2 separate regions of the Homo sapiens genome follow, and region 2 is reported to be linked to region 1. The links are microRNA targets in miRTarBase. Many come from high-throughput screens and were not tested one by one. Region 1 holds a microRNA gene; the other region holds the end of a gene's coding sequence.

Evidence for each region. Region 1 holds the annotated microRNA hsa-miR-2054 (CUGUAAUAUAAAUUUAAUUUAUU, at 4,840-4,862, shown strand). A microRNA usually pairs through its seed, bases 2 to 8, with sites in the 3' UTR of a target mRNA and lowers its output. Matches are read on the target gene's strand: a 7mer-m8 pairs with bases 2 to 8, a 7mer-A1 pairs with bases 2 to 7 and ends in A, and an 8mer does both.
Region 2: the mRNA of GLRX5 is a reported target of hsa-miR-2054. Seed matches in the 3' UTR shown: 7mer-A1 at 833-839.

Annotation. Positions count from the first base shown.
Region 1 is chr4:125,502,420-125,513,617 of GRCh38, forward strand. MIR2054 (microRNA 2054) reads left to right here and starts at 4,840; the gene lies at 4,840-4,888.
Region 2 is chr14:95,543,483-95,554,680 of GRCh38, forward strand. GLRX5 (glutaredoxin 5) reads left to right here. Exons shown (of 2, transcript NM_016417.3): 2 at 465-1,232. The coding sequence ends at 643. Among named protein-coding and RNA genes, the nearest start is that of GLRX5, 14 kb to the left of the region's middle. RefSeq lists a cis regulatory region at 2,337-2,627 and an enhancer at 4,301-5,176.

The sequences.
Region 1 (11,198 bases):
GGTTTGTACTAGATTTCAAAGCTTATTATTTTTCCATTACTACCTAACACTTGTGTATCTCTTCTTCAGCTTTCAAAGAGTTTTCAGGTGAGTTATCTAATTTGAACATTACGTTACATCTGTGAGGTTGATTACAGAAAAGTAATTAACACATTTTAGAGAAAGGAAAACATAAATGAAAAGAGACTTACTCAAAGTCACAAAGTAACGGTGAATAGCTGGTGAAGTTCTTAATGCTTTCCTTTGAATATAATCACTAACCCCACATGCAGTGTTCTTTCTGCTATATCACAATAAAATGTGAAAAAGGTGGAATGCCAAAGTGATATCTTTGATGTTAAACTTCAGGCATTTAAGGAATATTGAGCCAGGAATGATCATACACAAAATAATGGAATGTTAATCAGGCAATAGTGCATGTTATTAAAAATTAGGAACCAATATTAAAGAAGCTATAAAGAAAATATGACATTGTATTAGTTCGTTCTCATGAGGCTAATAAAGACATACCTGAGACTTGGTAATTTATAGAGGAAAGAGGTTTAATGGACTTACAGTTCCACAGGGCTAGGGAGGCCCCACAATCATGGCAGAAGACGAGGGAAGGGCAAAGGGACATTCTGGTAGGCAGAAGAGAGCATGTGCAGGAGAACTCCCCTTTATAAAACCATCAGATCTTGCGAGACTTATTCACTATCATGAGAACAACACAGGAAAGACATGCCCTCATGATTCAATTACCTCCCACTGGGTCCCTTCCACAACACGTGGGAATTATGGGAGCTACAATTCAAGATGAGAATTGGATGAGTACGTAGCCAAACCATATCAGACATCAGAAAGCAGTGTATAGAGAAAATACTCAGACCATGCTAAGCATCTTATGTACACTATTCTACTTAACTCAATTAGTTGGTTTTGTTTAAGTCTCAGAACCATAAGAAGTAATAATTTTACTATATGATTTGCATATGAAGAAGTTTAGGGTCTTATTCAAAGTCATGTAACAAATGAAGAGTAGAACTGGAATTTAAACTCTGGTCTCTGAGTTCAGTCAACTTTTCTACTAAGTACATCAATAACTTTAAAGCTGTCACAGTTTTCTCTTGCTTACTAGGTCCTTTAACTTTTGCCTACAATGTATACCATGTTATATTTTTGCTATGTCTTCCCACAACATGTCTTCTATATCTGGCTCTTATCCTCCACTTCTCTTTACTTAGAGTGTGGATTCTGAATCAATATGCTTATGTCATTACATTCTATTTGCTATTCCTTCATGAGCATAACGATGATGATAATATCAACCTCATAGGGTGGTATGAAGATTAAATGGACTGATTTACATGAAGTTCTTAAAACGTAATATGCCTTCCACATAATCAGCTCCATTAGCAATGAGGAGGATGAAGCTGATCATTTTTCTTGAGACATTTAGTAAGCACCTGTAATGATTTTAATCCTGAGGCCAGGGATTCTATTTTCAGACTAGTAGAATCTGATTTGATCTCTAGTCAAATGAATTGGAAAGATACCAGACTAATCCCTTAATACCCTTGGTATAACAGTATAAGAACTTTACTCCAGAGAAGAGGCAAATGAATTTGAAAGACCTTTCTGATATCATATGAGTGTCAAAGACAGTTCATATATAAGGTTCTAAATGGACAAGCTCAGGAATTTATATTTAGAGTATAATATGAGTACCTGAGACATATTGGTCACTGGACTTGAGGTAATGAATTCAAATTTTCAAGTATTTCTAATTGAAAGTACATTCTTTTCAGAAAGGCATTGCGTTTGCATTGTTTTACCTTTTTAAAGCTAAGATTTCTCTTGTATTGATTATTTTCCCTTGCCATTTGCAGCTAGAAAAGCTGCACTTAAGGCAGAAATGACAAGGCAGTTCAGTTAACACAGTGATTTCTAGAGCAGTCAATTTATTATCTTTATCATGTGCCAGGTTTATAAATCATCATATGGTCTCTGGGAGAATGATTGCTCCTGTGAAGGGGAATAATGTGCATATATTATTATTGCTTATCTATTTTCATTGCGAATAATAGAATGCTTAAAAAGAAGTCAGTTTATTACACAGTGTAGCTTATTTAGAGAGCTATATTGTTATAAAATCCTAAACTTTCTTGTGCCCAAAGCTGATAATCTAAAAAGTCATCATCTTATACTAACATCAGTGGAAGCTGAATTTTTTTTGATACAAAGAAGCATTTATCTTCTGTTAATTCTTATAATGATAGTAAAATATTATACTACAATTCTCCTTTCTTCCTTCATTATTTGATTGCACATGGAATTATTGTGTTTATTTCTTTTATTCTTATTTCCTACTGAGCATAGTTTAGTCCTTTGACATTTCAAAATAATTATAACTACACCTGAAAAACCCACTGACAGGAAAGAAAAAAGAGAACACTTGGTTCAAATGGCATTTGAAACACAATATCTAAAACACATTAACAAAAAATGTCAGAGCTTCTACTGTTGAAGCGTCTCTGTTTTGTGTGTGTTCTGTGTGGGTGTGTGTTATGTGTGTGTGTTCTGTGTGTGTGTGTTCTGTGTGTGTGTGTTCTGTGTGTGTTCTGTGTGGGTGTGTTTTGTGTGTGTGGGGGGGGTGTTGTGTGTGTGTATGTGTTCTATGTGTGGACTCGAGAGGCTGAAGGTGTGCTCTCTTGGCTAGGGTTAGAGTAAGCCCTCACCTTGAATTTCTGTGTTATTCTCATCTTCCTTTAAAAAGTTCTTTGCCACTACAGTAAGTTGTTCAGTTTTCTGAATTACTGTGCCTTCAATCCTCCCGAAGATTGAGAGGCATAGTTATATAGAATACATGAAAGCACATACGTAGCCAGTAAAGCAAAATACAAATAGATTTAAAATTAAGTCACAGGTGCCTTATTTTCAGCACTCAATTCTTGCATGTGTAGATTCTTTCTTCCAAATCTGTCTGAAGGCTATTTAAATTATTTCTTAGTTGAAGAGACAATAATTTAAGACATCAAATTAGAAGTTGCTTCAAAGTAATACATTACATTTTCCTATTTTGGATTTCTAGTCCCAAAATACAAAAGGAAGAATATATTTTGAAGTGTAATTACTGTATTTCTCTCTCTCTCTTTTTGGCTAGGGACTATGGATCATTAGAGTCTAGTATCCTCAAACAAGAAATAAAGCAGATAGAGATAGGATATGATACAGAGACGAAGATTTACTCAAGTATTAAACTTTGTTGCAAATGACATATCAGTTAAAACACATGTACATTTTACTCTTTTTCTTCTGAGTTTAAAGACTCAAAAACATTTCCTTCAGGCACTGGGAATGAGCTCCTGGAGCCACGTCCTAACTTTAGCAATAGCCGGTTGCCAGCCCTAGTTCTCTATTTTGGAGCTTCGTTCCTAGTCTTCATTGTGTTGAGTGACAAATTTGCAGGCTGTATGGATGACTTCATAGTTGGAGCAATGTCTTTTTGTGCTAACACTGCTTTGGTATTTAGTAAACAGTGAGATGCTCTTAAAATATTGCCAATGATTCTAAAGGAGTCCATCCTAGGATTAAAACATGGGTTTAATACAGACATTTCTTATTCTTACCTATTTATGTACAATTTTGGGGCAACTATACCATTTCCCCATTTCTAAAACTTTTCATTCATTTATTCAAAATTAAATACACTTATTTATATAATTTATCCATGTATTTATCAATGTGACTGAGTAAAAAAAAATCAGAATAGGAAGTGAACTGATGCTCATTAAACTCTTCTAAATGTAGTCATGTAAGTATTAGACCAGAGCTGTAAGCAGAGTAATAGTCTAACAAAAATACCTATTCTTACCTCAATCTTATGGAGAGTATTAGAATGATAATGTCAGTTTCTTATGACTTTAAGCCAGATTAAGGGACATAAATATATGACAGTATTTTTTCATAACCTACTGTAATATTTTCTAATTTTTTGCTGTATTTACTCAAAATTTTTCTGAGCTTCTTATGAACTTTATTTCAGGACTGGGGGAAAAGTTTTATAAATCGGTTTTAGAAAAATGCTTAAAGAATTGACCACATTATAATACAGATTTTTGCTATATGTTCTTGCACAAACTATTCCTGTAGGGAAATGTTACTTCTCATCACACTGACATCAAGTTTGGCCATGTGAATTTCTTTAGCTAGTTAAATGTGTATGGAAGTAATATGTGACACTTCTGAGCAAATATTTTCAGAGCATCCTCTAGATCCTCCGTCATTACTTTCTTTCTGCCATCAGAACCACTTTAGTAGAGATTTCCCCCTTCCAATGGGGTATTGGAATGATGAGGATGTGGAGCAGAGCTGCAATGGGCATGAACATGAGTGACAAAGAAACCTTCCTTGTTTAAGCCATTGAGATCTTGGAATGATTTGCTACTATAGCATGCCGTTGTAACCTGCCTGATACAAATAAGCTAATAAAACAAAGATTTAATTGCTCTGAATTTCAAGTTTAATACTATAAGATGGTGTTAGAACTATACCAAAATGGAGATGCTTTGTGGTATCAAAATGTTAGAATAATCCTTTATACTCTTTTACTACTTCAGATTATTTCACTAAAATATCTTGGTGTATAAATTATATAAATATATTGAGATGGAAACTAATAATTCTACTTTGATCTCCCAATAGATGAGAGCAAGTGAGAATTAATTTATTTGCATTTTTCAGTGGTACAATTAGCCATCTGTTGATTGGCTTATTAATACTCCCATTGAATCCATGAGTTTTTGCTAGGTTTCCTTTGGCAACAATTAAGAAGCACCAGTGTGTAGATTCTCCTTCTTCCTGTAATATAAATTTAATTTATTCTCTATCATTAAAAAATGTATTACAGAGGAGCATATTAAAATATTCAACAGAGGGTAATTAGCTGTCTATGTTTTATATGCAGTAATAATGCTTGAGACTGCTTCTAAATTTAGTAAGTAAACTCAGGCTAGAGCAACACAAACTGGTTGTCTGAAGATAACAATTAATTCAGACAAACCAAGTGACTGATGGTCCCTTGTAGACTTGAGTTTTCTCCTGTTTCTCATATTGCTCAGTTTTATAATCAATAACAGAAGCAAAATTACAGAATTTTCTTTTGGTGAGATATAAATTTCCCCAGTGACTCTCACTGAAAGGCAGAGCAATCAGCAATGCACCAGATAATCTGATAGCAAGTATAAATTTGCTATATTTACATAAACATATTTATAAAACATATATTTATATAAACATATTTATATAGACATATATTTATATAAATATCAATAAATAAAATAAAATTTAAGTTAGCTAGTTTATTGTGTTATTTAAAAAGTCAAGGACATGAAGTTATCAAAACTAAAAGACTCAGAGCAAAACTTCTCCAAAAGAGTCACTTCATGATTAATCGGTCTCTAACCAGATTTTTTTAAAATTGTACTTCTTGGGGTAAAAGACAATTTAATCCTGATATCAGCTGATCTTTTGATTCTCCTACTTTAATGGCTAATTAATCACCTATTTTATTTCCAAGGCACAGATATAATTTGAGTCTGTTGAAATTTTACAGGTTGGGAGCAATCTAGATAGTTTAAAAATGCATACGTATACATTTGGTATAATCTTTGCAGGCTTTGAATTCTAGTGTCTTCAACTAATCTGGACTTCTTGTACGGAAATGTAATCTTTTCTGCCTCTAAACAATTGACAAAGGGCAAGAGTTTCTAAGGAGGAAGAAAAGAAAGTTGAAGAAAACCTGACATTTTGCACAACACTGGTTGAGAATAGGCAAAAAAAGAAAAAAAAAAAAAACATTTAGAACAGAACTGAAAACCCATTAAGTGTTCTGGGTCCTAGGGGATACCCATTGCTAGCCTGCTCAGCAGAAGTTTTTCCATTACAATTTTTTGTAGATAAGTACTTTAATAGTAAAATAGGTCGTTGTTTTCCTGCGACTCTCATTAAGCTATTCAAAGAAAACACTTATTCATTTTCCTTTATCATTACCTTCCTTAGTTAGAAAAGTCTGGATTTCAGTTTTTTTTGGTTGCTTGTTTATTTTTGATTTATATTAATTTTCCCTTATGAAGAAATCAATATAAGTCCCCCGTGATTTCTTGAAAGAATATATCTAAAGACATAGCATTTTGTTTTTAGGTGGGAAGTTTCAGTAAAATTGTTTTGTTTGCAAAACTACATCAAGTAAAAAGAGGTTCTGGAATTTTACATTTCATAGCAGTTTTCCTAAATAATCTAGAGAAAATGATTCCTAACTTTTACTTCATTAATAAGAAATAGTCTCACTTTAAGAAATAAAAAGATTTTAAAGCTAGACAAAAACAGATATTTTTGTAAAAATTCAAGTCAATATAAAAGCAATCCTTTCAAGAAATGAAATATTTTTCATACATTATTGTGAAAGAAAAAAATTCCTACACATTTAAACCAAGCATATGTATCACTCATTAAACAAAATAATGTAACTTCACTATATTTATACATTGCTGAAATATATTTAAATATTGAAATATTTTCTTTGAGCAAATATAGCCCACATTTTAAAAATAACCAAATGAATCTATAAAATCATAATTTAAAAAGTAACAACAAATGAAAATTAGATGTCAAGTTATTTTTTAAGAAAAAAGCAACATCCAAAAGCTTGGGTCTTCCTAATGTACTGCACAGAAAAACATCATATGCATTTTTATATGGTGCTCATATTATGATATGTTAACACGTGGTCTGCAAAATAAGATAAGCTCAAATTCATTACCTTCTGATAGTACCTGCCAGCAAGGTTGCTATGAACAATTTTGAATAAAAAAGTAATAAGACAGGCAGTAATATTGTTTGCTGAAACTAATTGAACAATAGGATGTTATTGGATCAGATGTAATTAATCTAATTGACTCTTGTAGAATTAAGTATAAGAAAAGACCCTTGGCACAAGTTGGTCAGTTGGTCAAAAATGACACACTAAGATCAATTTGTAACACTTCCAAAAAATATTAAATAATTCCTCCTTGTAATATTGTGTTAGTCTGTTCACACACTGCTATGAAAAAATCCCAAAGATTGGGTAATTTATAAAGAAAAGAGGTTTAACTGACTCACACTTCTGCATGGCTGCGAAGGCCTCAGGAAACTTACAATCATGGCAGAAGGGGAATCAAACATGTTCTTCTCCACATGGCAGCAGGAGAGAGAAGTGCTGAGCAAAAGGGGAAAAGCCCCTTATAAAACAATCAGATCACGTGAGAACTCACTCACTATCAAGAGAGCAGCATGAGGGTAACCACCCCATGATTCAGTTACCTCCCACCTGGTCCCTCCCATGGCATGTGGGGATTATGGGAACTATAATTCAAGATGAGATTTGGGTAGGGACACAGCCAAACCATATCAAATATTTTTCCTCATCAAATATATAGATGGTAGCATAATAATCACTCAATCTCCTGAGAGTTCAGCAGTTGGTGGTAACACAGTTCGTGGTATGGGTGGGTTGGTCATGTTTGAAGTAATCCATGACTTAATTAGCACTTACTAATAAAGGTGAATGATTTATACCCTTTTGCGTTCATCACTTCCTTTCTATATTCCTTCAGTAAAGGGCATTCTGTGTAAAAACAGAGAAAAGAGATAAAGCTGAAAAAGCCTGCATGAATCATATATTGTGGGTACTTCCTAGTTTCTTGTTTATACATTAACAATCCTAAGTAAGACAAGAAGAGTCACTCTCCTAAACCATTCCCCAAGTAAATACATTTGCCTTCCCAGATTCTAATCTGATCATTCATTTATTCAACAAATATTTATTCAGTGCCTCATTTATCCAGAAGACCAGGGTGAAGAAGACATAGAGACCCTACTTCACACATCTTAGAGTGCGGAGACATAGCAAATCTCTGAGTTATGCAGGAGTTTTGTGTATGCCAGCAAATGAAAGACAGCAGTGTGTCTACCTACATTTCCTATTGCTGCTTTAACTGTTTACCATGAATTTAGGGGCTTAAAATGACAAAACTTTATTATTTTACATTTCTGCAGGTCATAAGTCCAAAATCTGTTTTACTGAGCTAAAATCAAGGTGTCAGCAGGCCTGCATTCCTTCTGAAGGCTCTAGGGGAGAATCCATCTCCCTGCCTTTTCCAGCTTCTAGAAACCACCTGTAATCCTGGGCTCAAGGTGCCTTACTCCATCTTCAAAGTCAGCAGAGATCAAACCTTCTCTCTGATCTCTGCTTCCATGTTTACATCTCTCTCTGACTCTAATCCTCCTCCATCTCTCTTATAAGGTTGCATGTTTTTATATTAGGCCCAACTGGATAATCCAGAATAATTTCCTATCTCAAGATGCTTAATCACATCTGCAAAATCCCTTTCACATGTAAGGTATTACACTCACAGGTCCTTGGGATTTGGATATGGACATCTTTGGGGACTATTATTCAGACTACTGTAATGGCCAGTGATCTGTGATTGAAGAGTGAACAGTGGCAGAGCTTCATGAGTGAGGCAGACATCAGTTCTAGCTTGTTCAGGCTCTTGTATTAAGAATCGGTTTTTTACTAATGCAATGAAGAATCCTGGAAATGTTGGTTGTTTGTTCTGCTTAAATTTAAGAAACAGATTTACATGACCTAATTTTTGATATGATTTATTGTTTTATTAACAATAGATTAGAGTGAAGCAAATTGAAGAAAAAGGCTTATTTGTTTTCTAGATTTTAATATATTCATTTGGGAATGAAAGTGTTTGGAAAATGAAATAGGCAATTATTAAACTGGTGTTTGAGAGGTAAAATATTTTATTTAGTATGCTGTAAAAAGGAGCATTGACTTTTAGCCTCTATACTAGAAAAGTTACTAACTGTGAAGTTTGGAAAATTAAGGTCATAGTGCACATTAGATTTTTCATGAGTTTAGAGTTCATGATAAACTCTAAAATTATAGGTTGCTGCAGACAGTTAATTAAAAAAATAGTTCCAACATTATATAACTAATACAAATTACTCTAAGACACAATAGTCACAGCAGCGGTTCTCTGCCATAATTTGAATTGCCTCTTGAATTTGAATATGATTGTCTCAATTCCTTTATTTAGTTAAATTCTCATAAAATTTTGAAATGCCCTTCTAACTCTTCTGCGCTTGGTTTTATGACGAAATATAATCATCACATAAGTTACAAGTTGACAATCCTAAATATCTAGGTCATACATTTTCTTCATGTGATTTATTTGGAAAACATTTTGCCTAAAATTCTGGGATACAGTAAATCCCTGAGATGATTATCACTGGTTGTCAATGTCCTAAATTCATCTACTGAGAAAGAGCACCACTAGGTAGTAGCAATATTTACTGAAAGATCCTGTGCTGCAAACTCAGTGTGATTCCTGCCATTTCAAAGAGCAATCCTCTCCACAGCTGTAATGATTCTCTCACCTTGTAGCCCGCTGCCAGGTGATTTCTCACAGGAGAAGTTACGTTCACTTCTAGGGCATGGGTTCAGCTCTGATCTATGTTGACTAATTTGAACCATCTGAAGGCTGATTGTTGACCTCTGCTTAAAAGAAAATAAAAACTCAGTGGTTTCGAAACAATTTTAGACAACTGAAACTGAGGAAACTGGAAAAAAAAGGCAAGGCATGTTCTACCATAAAACTGTGGATGGTATCATGAATGCCACACACCTGCCCTCTGAAAATTCTTACCAGACTCTTATGGCTTGCAGTGTCTAATTAAATTCCTTAAGGGGCACAGCAATGGAAGTTCGTTTGCCTGTCTTGATGTACCTGAAGCAGCATTAATGTAGCTACTTAATGCATATGACATAGTTAGATTGGGTATTCAGTCCTAGATGAATGATCATCCACATTAAAAATCTACGTTATGAAATAAACACATGCTTAAAAATAATGCTTAGATATAAAGACGCTTCAAAACAAACATAATATTGGAAGTGTGCTGTGCCTTTCTGGCCACAGTCAACTTTTGTTTGCATTCCAAGTTACCCTCACTGCATTGAATACTTAGACAGGAAAAAGGTTGGGCATGAGCAGAGGCATTTTCAAGTGCATCAGGACAATTTTCCTTTGGTCGGCTTTTAAGAAAATCAAAACAATTAATAAGGAGGCCCACAGGAACAGTTTTTTGACATTTTGAAAATTTCACGAATGTTAAGCCCCACGATGCAATTTCTTTTTTCTACCTCTCAACAAAATTTAAGGATCTCTTACAGAAAGAGGGTGCTTAAGAATATGCAACTTCTCTGGGTAATCAGTCCTTACCTAGTGATTAAATAGTCTGGCTCCAAACCACCCAGCTCATTGTTTTTTTACCCACAGTGTGAAAGAAAAATCATCTTTGTGCCAACCCCACATCATAAAAAACCCTAACAATGTGTTGAGTGTGACTTAAGAACCCATAATGCATTTTTCATGAAGGTAAGGAAAATCCATTAAGGAGATTAATTTGTGTTTGGAGAGCCTATCCCTCTACAGCCAAAAATATTTGTTCTGTTAACTGCAGTTTGCTGATACACTATGATAGTGCTGCAGCCTAGTAAAGACATTGCTATCTATACCATTATATTTTCTGCAGATGGATTGTTTATGAATTATTAAATAGCTATTTCTTGAAGGAAACTGTAGGTTATAAAACTGTCTTTTTTCCTTTTGCTAATTATTATAGTTAATGGTGTTAAAAAGGCTAATTGAGGCCTAATGTTTTCTTCAGTAACATTTATGTTAGGGAAACCTCCTCTTTCATACCCAGGTAATGTTCATTTGCTACTATTCAGAAAGAACTTTCTAGGAAAAAGAAATATACTATCTATAATGCATTTTATAATTGGTTACCAACATTGTGCATTTAGCCATTTGATAACCTTGAAGAGAGGGACTTAAACGACTTGAGTTAAATTCTATAGTTAAACTTTTTGAAATAATAAGATAGACCTTTTATGTTATAAATAAATCACTTGAGTCACACAAACTCATTATGGTGAGATGTGATCCAAGGAAGGAAGAAGATTGTACAGTTTTATTCTTACACCACCTCCCAATGATTCAAATCATCAGTGGTTCTCAGCTTTGCTCATGGCTATTATCTGAAGCTCTTAAAGAATACAGATGCTTAGGTTCTGTCCTCTTAGTTTCTGATCTCACTGG
Region 2 (11,198 bases), not on the chromosome of region 1:
GAAATGAAGTTGGTTGTGACATTTCTTCAAGTTTTGTTTCGCTTGAAGCTTGACTGGTAGATGGAGAATTTTGGCCTTATGTATCTTATGTGACTTGCATTACCCAGTCCAGTCCTCTGCCATTAATCTAAGGTCCGCAATGTATCAGGTATTTTACTGAGAATCTTGCTTACCTAATTCTCACAAAAAAAAAAACCTTGGGAGATGAGGGTGGAAACAGGATGAGAGGTCAGGTGACTTGTCTGAGGGCTGACGGTTTGTAATTGGAAGAGTCAGGGCCTAACCACTGGTCTCTTTGACACAAAAACTCATGCTCTTAGTGGCAAGCACAGTGTTCTCAAGATTGGGGGAAGCCAGGGAGGGACAGTGGGTTGTCTGCTACTAGTGGGTCAAAATTACATATTTAGTCATGAATGGTTCAGCTTTTACCATTTAAATAACAAATAAATGTTCTTTCTCCATAGGCATTAAAGACTATTCCAACTGGCCCACCATCCCGCAAGTGTACCTCAATGGCGAGTTTGTAGGGGGCTGTGACATTCTTCTGCAGATGCACCAGAATGGGGACTTGGTGGAAGAACTGAAAAAGCTGGGGATCCACTCCGCCCTTTTAGATGAAAAGAAAGACCAAGACTCCAAGTGAGGGCGGCCAAGTCCTCGCTGAGCAGAGAGGGAGCCGTTCATGTCAGAGACTCACTGCCAGAAAAGCCTTACCCATTTTGGTTTTCACTATTGAGACCGCAACTGCTTGCACTGATCATTTTGGTTCGTGAGCAGTTGGTGATTTTAGTTGGTCTGGTGTTCGGGCTAAGAATATTTTATTGTGGACTTAATTACAACCACTGCACTGTAATGATTCAATGCTGTATTATGATATTGCTGTAAACAAAATTCATTCTTATATTGTCACTTATTCTTTGCCTGATTCAGAAGTTAAATAGGAGCTTTGGAATCATTATTCATGACCCCTCTGCAAATGTGTCAGTCTCCAAAGAGAGTATCTCCCCCCAAATTTTGTGTAGCTTCTTTTGTTATGGAAAATGGTGAACAAAAAAAGAAACTGTGATAACTGGGGCGTTGTTTTTTAAAATAAACTCCAGCACAGGGATGCTGTGCATGCCTGAGTTGATTCCGAAGTGCATATGTCTGTAAGGATTTGGAGTGCCTGCAGTGTTTTATGTGTGGGAAGTAAGGGTGAGTCTCATATTCTTCTATTAAATTTGCCACAAGAATTGCCGTCGAGCCCTGGTCTACTTTCTGGGGGAAGCAGCTGTTTGGATGGTGAGTCAACTGTGCAGCTGGAGGCGTGGGTGGGCTGGAGGGAGCAGAGGTGGGTGAGGCCGGAGGAGGCGGCCCCACCTGCCTATCTCTGGAGCCCTGTGCTTGGCACACTGCTACAGTTAGATAGGGAGACATCGTCAACAGTCCACCGAGCTAGGGGATTTAATGAGTATTTTACTTCTTAAAAAGTGGGGACTTTCTAAAAGAGGACATAATTTGGAATTGTGGCAGAGATTCTCCCAGTGTCTGGTGTCTTTATAAGACCTTTCCATGAGTTCTGCATCCCGAGACTGGGGCCTGGTAGAGCCTGGGGCTGTGCAGAGGCCCATGGGAAGGAAGCCCGCCTGGTGTGGCATGGAGGCTTTGTTCATCTCCAGGGACTTAAAGAGAGCGCTTGTCTAGAAACATATCTTTACGGTGGCAGAGGTGGGAAGAAGGATGCATTTTCTCATAATAAGGGCAAAAAGGACAGAACGGCTCTTTTCCCCAGAGCTATTCTAGAGGCTTGTTCTTCGTTGCTTATTTAATCTCCTTGAGTTCCTCTCGAGAATACTCTAAAAACAGACTTCCTCCATGAGGTCAGGCTAGAACTGATGGAGTTGCCCCTGCTCCCCTTCCCCAGAGGTTTTGGAAGGGGAAGGAAAGCTGTAGCCCCACGCCCCCACCCTGGGGACTGCCCCATCAGATTAGAGCACTGCTCCTCAGCAGTCACCCACCTCACCGTGTTAGAGAAAAGAAAAATAGATTATTCTCAGAAAAAGGTTATTACATTAATTGTCTGCTACATCCCATGATACCTTTATGTCTTCTGTAAGCTAAGGGACCTTAGGATCTAAGAGGAGGTTAAAACACATCCATTTGAGCCATTTGGTTTAGAAATGAGGGAAGCAGGAGCACTAGAAGGATCTACCTTGCCCTGTAGACAGAGTCACCATGAATAAGTCACTTCATACTGCCTCTGGATGGATACAGGCCGTGGACCAGAGGCCGGGTCTGCAAAATTGTCCCTTGCCATCACATCTAGTGAGGAGTGTGATACGTTTTCACAATTTTGCTTCTTTTGGCTTTTCCTTGAATCTGCCTGTGTGCCCTTAGGTTTCATCTGAAAAGCGAAATGATGAGAAACTTATTGATGGGAAGCATCAATGTAAGAAACCTCTCTAGAATATGATTGGAGCTAGGAAAAGGCTGCCAAGTGAATAATTTGACTCATGCTTATGAGTCATAGTGAGATCATATCAAAGTCACTAGGGAACTTATAAGTTGAAGGAATCACTGGGCTCTACGAGGAATGTAAGTCTTCTTTCTCAGAGTTAATTAATAATTTTTTTCTATATGCCTAACAAATCTCTACCAAGTAGAAAATTGAAGATGCTATCTAGTGTAAGTCTGAATAATTTTGATGGTCTGCATAATTAGAATTCACTGTGAGAATTAGAGCAGAGACACAGAGGTTCCTTGTGCAAACAGCAGTATCACGCACCTATTTAAAATGCAAGGACTGCTTCTCGGGTTTAAATGCACCTATTTAAAATACATTAGGCCTGTATTAGTGTGATTATATTGGATATTTGTCATAGCTTCAGGGTCTGTGTGATTAGACCCTTAGAAATCAAGTTATTTTAGAAGATTAAACATTTTATGATTTCAGGTAGTTTTTATTTTTTTCATGGATTGGTAGTTACATAAATGGCATTCTGCTTCATTAAGCTATGAGTTTTAGAGATATCTTAGGACAGAAGATAACTTTTAAGTTGGGTTTCGTTTTGTTGGCAGTGTTTAATTCACTTGTGTAGAATCTGGGAACCGAAGCTTTCCTTTAACTTTTCAAGCCATAGCAGCCAGCTTAAGAGAGAATTCTTGTTACATTTGTTAGGTTTACTTAGATATTTTGACATAAATTATATTTTGAGAAATCAGGTCCCTTGTTTGTGACAGGAGGGACTGTGCTAAGGGTAGAGGAATGACTTGTGTCGGCAAGGTTTCATTGGTGCAGATTGATTGATTGATTGATTGATTGATTGATTGAAAAAGGGTCTTGCTCTGTTGCCCATGCTGGCGTGCAGTGGCCTGATTATGGCTCACTGCAGCCTTGACCTCCTGGGCTTAAGCAATCCTTCCCACTCAGCCTCCTGAATAGCTGAGACTTCAGATGTGCACCACAACACCTGGCTAATTTTTTTATTTTTTAGAGACAGGGTCTCTGTGTTGCCCAAGCTGGTCTTGAACTCCTGGCTCAAGCGATCCTCCCACTCTGGCCTCCCAAAGTGTTAAGATTACAGGCATGAGCCACTGCGCCCAGCAGAAACAAATTTAAATGTGAGGTGAGAAAGCTTTCATGTGGGTTCCTGAGAGCCACCGACAGGAAAAGATATATATTAGGGGATGGCCACACAAAACACTGATTGTTTTAAAAATTTAACATTCCACTTAAGAATTGTTTAGTAAATCTAAAAAGCAGCTTTAAATTGTGCCTAAGAACCATATAATAGCTACTATGAAGCAGAGCAGAGGAATGGTGAAGAGAAAAGCCATTTTAAGGTCCAGGGGCTTACAGAGACGCATGGGGTGACCAGGTGGACTCTTGTAAAGCCACATTCCTGTCTTATTTCCTGAGAGTAGCATCACTTTAGGTCTGAAAGCTATGTGGGCATTTTGCGTGAGGGGAGCATTGTTTTCTTGGCGGTTGCCCTGGGAGCCCAGTGCAGGTGAGCTGAGGGCAGAGTCTCCCTTAGGGCAGAGATGCCACTGAAGGTGCACCTCACCTCAAAGATCCCTATCCTGGATTCAGTCAGAATAGCCATGTTATTCTCCTCCTTGTGAACCTCCCGGGGCACCCGGTTGTGTCACAGTGAAGTCTCTCCTATCCCAGAAAGCCTTCCCTGACCCCAGACGGAACAGACCCTTTAATCCACTCTACAGCCCTGTTCTTTGTTCATCACTCCAGGACCTAACTGCCTGTTACTTGGCTTTATTCAGATCCCCTCTGGCCAGCATACAGAGTGCCCCAAAAAATACATTTAGAAAAGAGTGAAGAATTTCCTTTCTTCATTCCTTTTGGATTAGTCACAAGAAATGTTAGGCTATTACAGGTTACAGCCTCGCAACACCGCAGTAGCTAAGAGCCGGGACTCAAGTCACCCTCCCTGGGTTTGCATCCCAGCACTTGCTGGGTGTGCTACTGACCTCAGACGACTTAGTAACCTCCCTTCCTGCTTAAGTGGGCAAATAGCAGATGCCACCGACCTCAGGCGTGTTACAAGCTTAGATGACAGCACCCTGTCGAGACCATGGCTCATAATGAGCTCTCACTGTAAGTTGACCTTGACAGTTAATGTTGGATTACACCTGGACTTGGTACCGCGCTGTGGTATCCACCACCGTTCGGAGGGTTTAAGGGAGCAGAGAAGGACAGGCTGATGAACACAACATCGTTCATGTTTGGTTGCCCCTGGAACATAGAGACTCATTGTTGAAGGCAAAGGACAGATCTAATCCTTGTGATGATCTATCAGTGGACTGCCCAGCAGCCCTAGGGGACGGCAGGGCCTTCAGCCAGAAAGAATTCCCTGTAAAGTATCTTTCCTACGATTATAGTTTGACTTACTGCCACCGAGTTTTATTTTTAAAAATACTGCTTCTATTTCATACCAAAGTGGAGAGTCTTTTCTGAACCGATATGTTAGACAGTTATTGTGTTGAGTTATGCTTCAAAGAATGCAGTTTAACCTTGAGCTAATTCTAATTTAGCAGTAGCAAGGATTGTGACACTGGGTTCTACTGTACCTCATTAGCCATTTTCACAGGGATTCGTTTTGCCAGAAAAAGGAGGTAGAAATGTTCGCCGGTTCCTAGGAAATTTGGTGAGCAAATATGGAAAGTATTTCCAGATTATTGATGTGTCTTCACTAGTCCTGAGCAAGCTATCAGCTTTGATCATCACCACCACCGATGAAGCAACCTTCCTGGGGAGGCCATGCTGAGCCCGAGTCTATGGGGACCTCTTCTGGCTCCAGACCCAGGCTGGGCAGAGGCTGAGACTTCAGCTGGGTGTCAGATACCCCTCACCCCTTGCCCTGATCTTGGGGGCGTTAGGGTGCTGTCAGAGTCTGACATAGGTATTAAAATATTTCAAATCTCAAGGAGAACTTCAGAGTTCTTCAGTACATTTACAAGTAAATTGTAATCCTGGGAAACTAGCAGCACACTTCCTGTTATTCTGGCTTCTTAAATTCTTTTGTTTTTTGTTTGTTTTTGAGATGGAGTCTCTCTCTGTTACCCAGGCTGGAGTGCAATGGCGCGGTCTCGGCTCACTGCAGCCTCTGCCTCCTGAGTTCAAGCTATTCTCCTGCCTCAGCCTCCTGAGTAGCTGGGATTACAGGCACCTGCCACCATGCCCAGCTAATTTTTTGTATTTTTAGTAGAGACGGGGTTTCACCATGTTGGCTAGGCTGGTCTCAAACTCCTGACCTCGTGATCCACCCGCCTGGGCCTCCCAAAGCCCTGGGATTACAGGCATGAGCCACCGCGCCTGGCCTTTAAGTTGTTTTTTAACTTTTTTCCATGATTCCTTAGTAAAGTCTCCTTAAAATGATTCTTGGGAGAGCAGAGGGCAAGGGGCAGTGTCAGTTACACCTGACTAAGTTACTTCAGTTCAGGTGCACTTCGTACAAAGTGTGGTGGGATGTCCATGTCCTAATCCCTGGAATGTGTGACTGTGTTACCTGGGGTAAGTTTAAGCTGTGTTTAAGTTCAGGATCTTGAGATAGAGAGATTGTCTTGGATCACCTGGGTGGGCTTAATGTAATCACAGGTGTCCTGGGCAGGAGGGAAGCAGAGGTTGGAGTGATGTACTCTGAAGAGGGCGGAAGGGGCCACAGGCCAAAGATCGCAGGCAGTCTCTAGAGCTGGAAAAGCCAAGGAAACGGATTCTCCCCTGGAGTCTCCAGAAAGAACACAGGCCATGATTTTAGCCCAGTGAAAGTCATTTTAGACTTCTGACCTCCTGCCCTGTAAGATTAAAAATTGGTGTTAAGCCACTAAGCTTGTCATTTGTTACAGCGGCAAAAGGAGACTAATACACCTGGCTGCCTGGATTTTATGGTGGATGCTTACTTGGTATAAGCAGACAGGGGGAAGGGTCAAACAATTATTGAGCATTTAGATCCGTAATTTGTTTCTCACCAAAGATCTGCAAATGTGGGATATTCTCTCTTCCTTTCAGATGATGACACAGAGACTGGGAGGGGGTCAGGTTACTTGTCCAAGGTCACTACCTGGTGGAATTTGAGCTGTGATCAGATCCATATTGTAGCACCCTTCGGAGGGCCGGCTCAGTGAGTGCAGCCGCTTAGTGCAGCTCTGGCTGTGGTGTCCAGAGTGTTCGCCCTGCAGCCCTGAGAAGAACTGAATTTGAGCTTCAGTTGCCTGTTGAAAGAGCCAGGGAGGCCAGGAATTTTGGAAGTTGCCCCTGGCCATCCACTATCAAGTATGTGAAGGAAGCAGAGGGTCCCACCTCTGAGGTCAGACAAATGGAAGGTGAATGCAAATGATGCCTCCTTGCAAATGATGCCAGGGAAAGCCTCCTGGGCCCCGTGTGTTGTGCGGACAGGTGGCCAGGCCAGAGGTCCCACTGGACTTCACTCTGAAATTCCAGACAGCAGGAAGTAAACAAAGTGCTTTACGAGCGAGTTCCCGCGGTCTGCTGGTCTTTCCCTGCACTTCCGTCCGACCTCGGTCACAGCCCTGGGTGGGGTCAGATATTTCTACCCATACTCAGGGCCACCTGTTGCCCCAAGTTCTCACTTCCTGGCAGTGTCCCTCTGCTAGCCCTTGCTGCTGCCCCCACCTTCCTCTGTCTGCCCGCCACCCCCCAGCCTTTTCCTTGGTCACAGTTGTCCTTTTGTTACCTGCGGTTATCAGAAACATGGTCAAATAGGGTATAAGCTTTTAGTATCCCATTCATTTGAAATTTTAACCTCGTTTTTAATAAAACAATGCATGCATATAATTAGTCAAATGATACTTTAAAAACTACAGTAATAATGAAAAACAGCACTCTCCTGCCTTTTGATCCATGGGTCCTGCTCTCTATAGGAAACAAATTTCCATTTCTTAAGCAGTTTCTTCTGTTTCCCTCCATATTTCATTTTCCTTTCTCTTCCTTTCTTTTTTTGTTTTGTTTTGTTTTTTGAGACAGGGTCTCACTCTGTTGCCCAGGCTGGAGTGCAGTGGTGCAATCACGATTCACTGTAACCTCGACTTCCCAGGCTCAGGCGATTCTCCCACCTCAGCCTCTCAAGTAGCTGGGAATACATGTGTGTGCCACTACGCTCAGCTAATTTTTTGTATTTTTAGAAGAGATGGGGTCTCACTGTGTTGCCAGGCTAGCCTCAAACTCCTAGGCTCAAGAGATCCACCCACCTGCTGGGTGGACCCCAAAATGCTGGGATTACAGGCGTGAGCCACTGCACCTAGCCAATATTTTTTAATGTGCTTATATTGCTATTTCTTTGCTAATAAATCAGATATTATCTAATCTCTTTGCCATTTTGATAGATAAGAATGCTCTCATATAATCATCAATCTACCCTACTTCTCACTGTTCCCTATACAATTAGCGCAATCATCAGTCTTTACATTATTATTGACAATATATATGTTAGTGAAATAAATATATATAAATAAGCAAATGCTGTATTCCTTTTTTTAACTTTTATCTCCATTTATTAAAAATTGCCTTTTTTTAGTTGTTTATTTTCTATTTGATTATTTTGTATTGGATTTTTATACAGTGCACAGGCATCTGCCAAATACCTGTCAATAAAGTTTTTCAACAGAAGCATCAGATAACTCATAGTAGCCCTTGCCCCCTGCCAAGCTCCCTCCTGGAATCCTCCACCCTCCAGCTGCCCTCTGATGTCTATCATCATCCTTGCTCTTCCTGTGTTGAGTTTTCTGTTCCCTGTGTCCCGCATCTTGGTCTTTGTGCTTTATTCCTTTGCTCTGCTGGAGCACATCCTGCCAAAGCTTCCTAAAGAAGATGCATGGGTGGTTCACTTTTTGAGACCAGGTCGTTGGAAAAGGTTTCCTTACTCCCATACTGTTACACAACTTGGGTCTGCCTGCTCAGCACAGTAAGACCAGATATCCACACTGAGGCTTCGCAGCAGTAGAAAGGAAGCCATTTATTTGCAGGGCACCATGCAGGGAGGACCAGGAAGCAAATGCTCAAATCCTGACTCCCCTGATGGCTTGTGGGTAAGGGTTTTTAGAGGTGGGGTACATTTCAGGAAAGTGGAAGCTACAGGCATAATCATGAATCAATACATAGAGATTACACATTGGTTTTGGCCTTGAAGGGTGGGATATTGTGAAGGAGGGGTGGGGCTTACAGGTAGGTTCAAAGATGTTCTGATTTGCAATTGGTTAAGGAAGAGAAGCTTTGTTTCCAACTTTGGGGTCCGTAGAAAAGAATATTATCTCAGGCTCATGGGTGTGGCTCCCTCCAGGCCCCTCAGGAAAAAACTTAGAACAAAGAATGAAGTCCAGACTTCAGTCCCCAGTTCCCTTATCTGAGATACACGTGCCAGTGATTTGTTGGGTGGGGGTCCGGGTTTCTAAAAAACTCAGACATATGTTAAGATGGTATCTCAGTTTCTATAGGGAACCAAATATCTCATGGCTAACTTCCTGGCTACTAGCTTAGGCTGCTATTACCTTCTTGCTCACCAAGTTGCCTACTTAATTCTTAGAGCTAGCTGGTGCCTCGAATTTCCCTTGGAAGCTTCATGGGACCAGGGGGCCCTGTTTTGTTCCCTGGTGCACTCCAAGTGCTTAGAATCACGCCCAACAGAGGTAGGAGCTCGCTATTTACTTATTGAATGGATAGACGGGTGTTAGGGCCACAGCTGTAGCCAGACATGGCTCCTCGTAGGCAAGTGAGGGGCGTGGCTGAGAGCACAGAAAGCTCTGCCATGACAGCAGAGTCTGCCTGGGCATCGGGAGGCACAGAGCGGGGGTCTCCTGGGGCTGAGGGCTATTGAGAAGCGATGCCAGCATGAGTCTTAGAGGACAATGAGCCTGGGACCACCAGGCAGCAGCAGACAACGTTCCTTAGTAGGTCATCTTTGCTGTCACACCCTAAGGAGATGGTGTGCAGCTGACAGTTGTGGCCCTGTCTTAAGTGGATAGGGTCCCACAAGATCATGTGTTGTGCTCAGCAGTGATTATGCTGGTAGAACCTGTACCTTTACATTGAGCCAGACCTTGAATGTGTGGCAGGCCCTAGGCATGTCGCACTGCAGGTGTGTGTGTTGCTGAGTTGCAAGTAGCCACAGGACCCCAGACACACCAGCACCACACTTCGACCCATGCACTCAGGGACCCTTGCCCTCTCTGGTTGCTCCCCTGCCCGCAGGACAGCGAGTCAGTGGGTCCAAGGGCTGTGATCACCTGAGCCCTTGCTCTCTTCCTCCCCAGACCCTAATACAGGTAACAGGGTCTAGGAACTCCCTGCCCCAATGTTCAGGATCTGCGTCCAGGCCCATGAGCTTCTAACCCAGTCCATGCTCCTGAAGAAAGGCAGCACCACCACCCTGGGTGTAAGGACCCCTCTGCGGGAAGGGTGTGGGGTATTGTGGACAGAGCCTGAACACAGAGCTCTGTTGCTCACACTCAGACCCCTCTGGGTGCTGCACGTGTGACCCAACAAAGCAGGTCTGGACGCTCACTGCTGGCCGAGCCCAACTAACAAGAGTGACATCTGATAGAAAGAAAGTGAATTTATTACCCAAACTAGTAGAGGGGAGGCAGCCGAATTCCTGTCCAAATTAACCACTTCAATTTTTAGCAGGAAGGCAAGAGTTTAAAAAAGAAAAACTTGATAAGGAAGGCATGGAAGACTTGGGCTGAGCATAATGTCTGTGTGTCTTGTTTTGGTGGCTGCGTCAGGTCCCAGTCCACCTGGACCTCGGGCTGACATCATCTCCATAATGGCCGGGCTGTTCATCAGCCGCCTTGAGGTCATCCCTGAAACTTTGCAACTGGGTCTCCAGACTTGGTCTGTTTCAAGATCAGCCCCTGGAACTTCTAAGAAGGCACACAATTAGATACTAACATACAGTTAGACAAACGTAAAGAGAGTATGGATGGTGGGAAAGGGAGGGGCATGGAGTCTATTTTGAGGCTAAGGAAAAAGGCTTTTGCAGTTTCCCTCAAGATTGTGTCTTGAAACCCAAGAGAAAGGGAAAAAAGTTTGAAATGCATTTTGAAGTTAAGCTGCCCAGTTACACATGGAAACACGGTTGCTCTCCCTATACCCGCTTAAGGATGTGACCTGGGGTGTCTCTTGCCTCACTTTGCATGCTTGTTTATGCTTCTACCTTGGGGTCTCTCTTGCCTCACTTTGCATGCTTGTTTATGCTTCTACCTTGGGGTCTCTCTTGCCATTGCAGGGGAGAGTATTTGAGGAACAGTTCAATGGGATTTAAGACTGTTTGAGAGGAACCCACAGAGGGGTGGGAGATCACTGGCTTGGGGCATTCTGGGCTGAGCCGTGGGCTTCCTTTTGGTTCTGTCTCTGGGTATGTGTTCTTTTGGTAGGTCTGTGCCAAGAACAAGCTTCACCACTAGGATGGCTGCCTGGGAGCTCTGGAAAGAGAAGTGGACAGCCACAGGACTGGCTATTTGTATCTACAGGCAGGTGGGCTCAACTTGGATGTAAGCATCTGCAGGATTCAGCAGCCAGAGGGACACTGGGACTGGGGCATTGGATTTGGTATCAATCACGCTAACCAGTCTCTTTTCTCCTCCTGCCTCCACAAACCAGTGGTGTGGGCTTTTGTGAAGGAGTCTGCCCCCTTCCTTCATGAAGTCACAGTGGGAGCCTCAGAGCGAGGCATTTGGGAGTAGGCAGT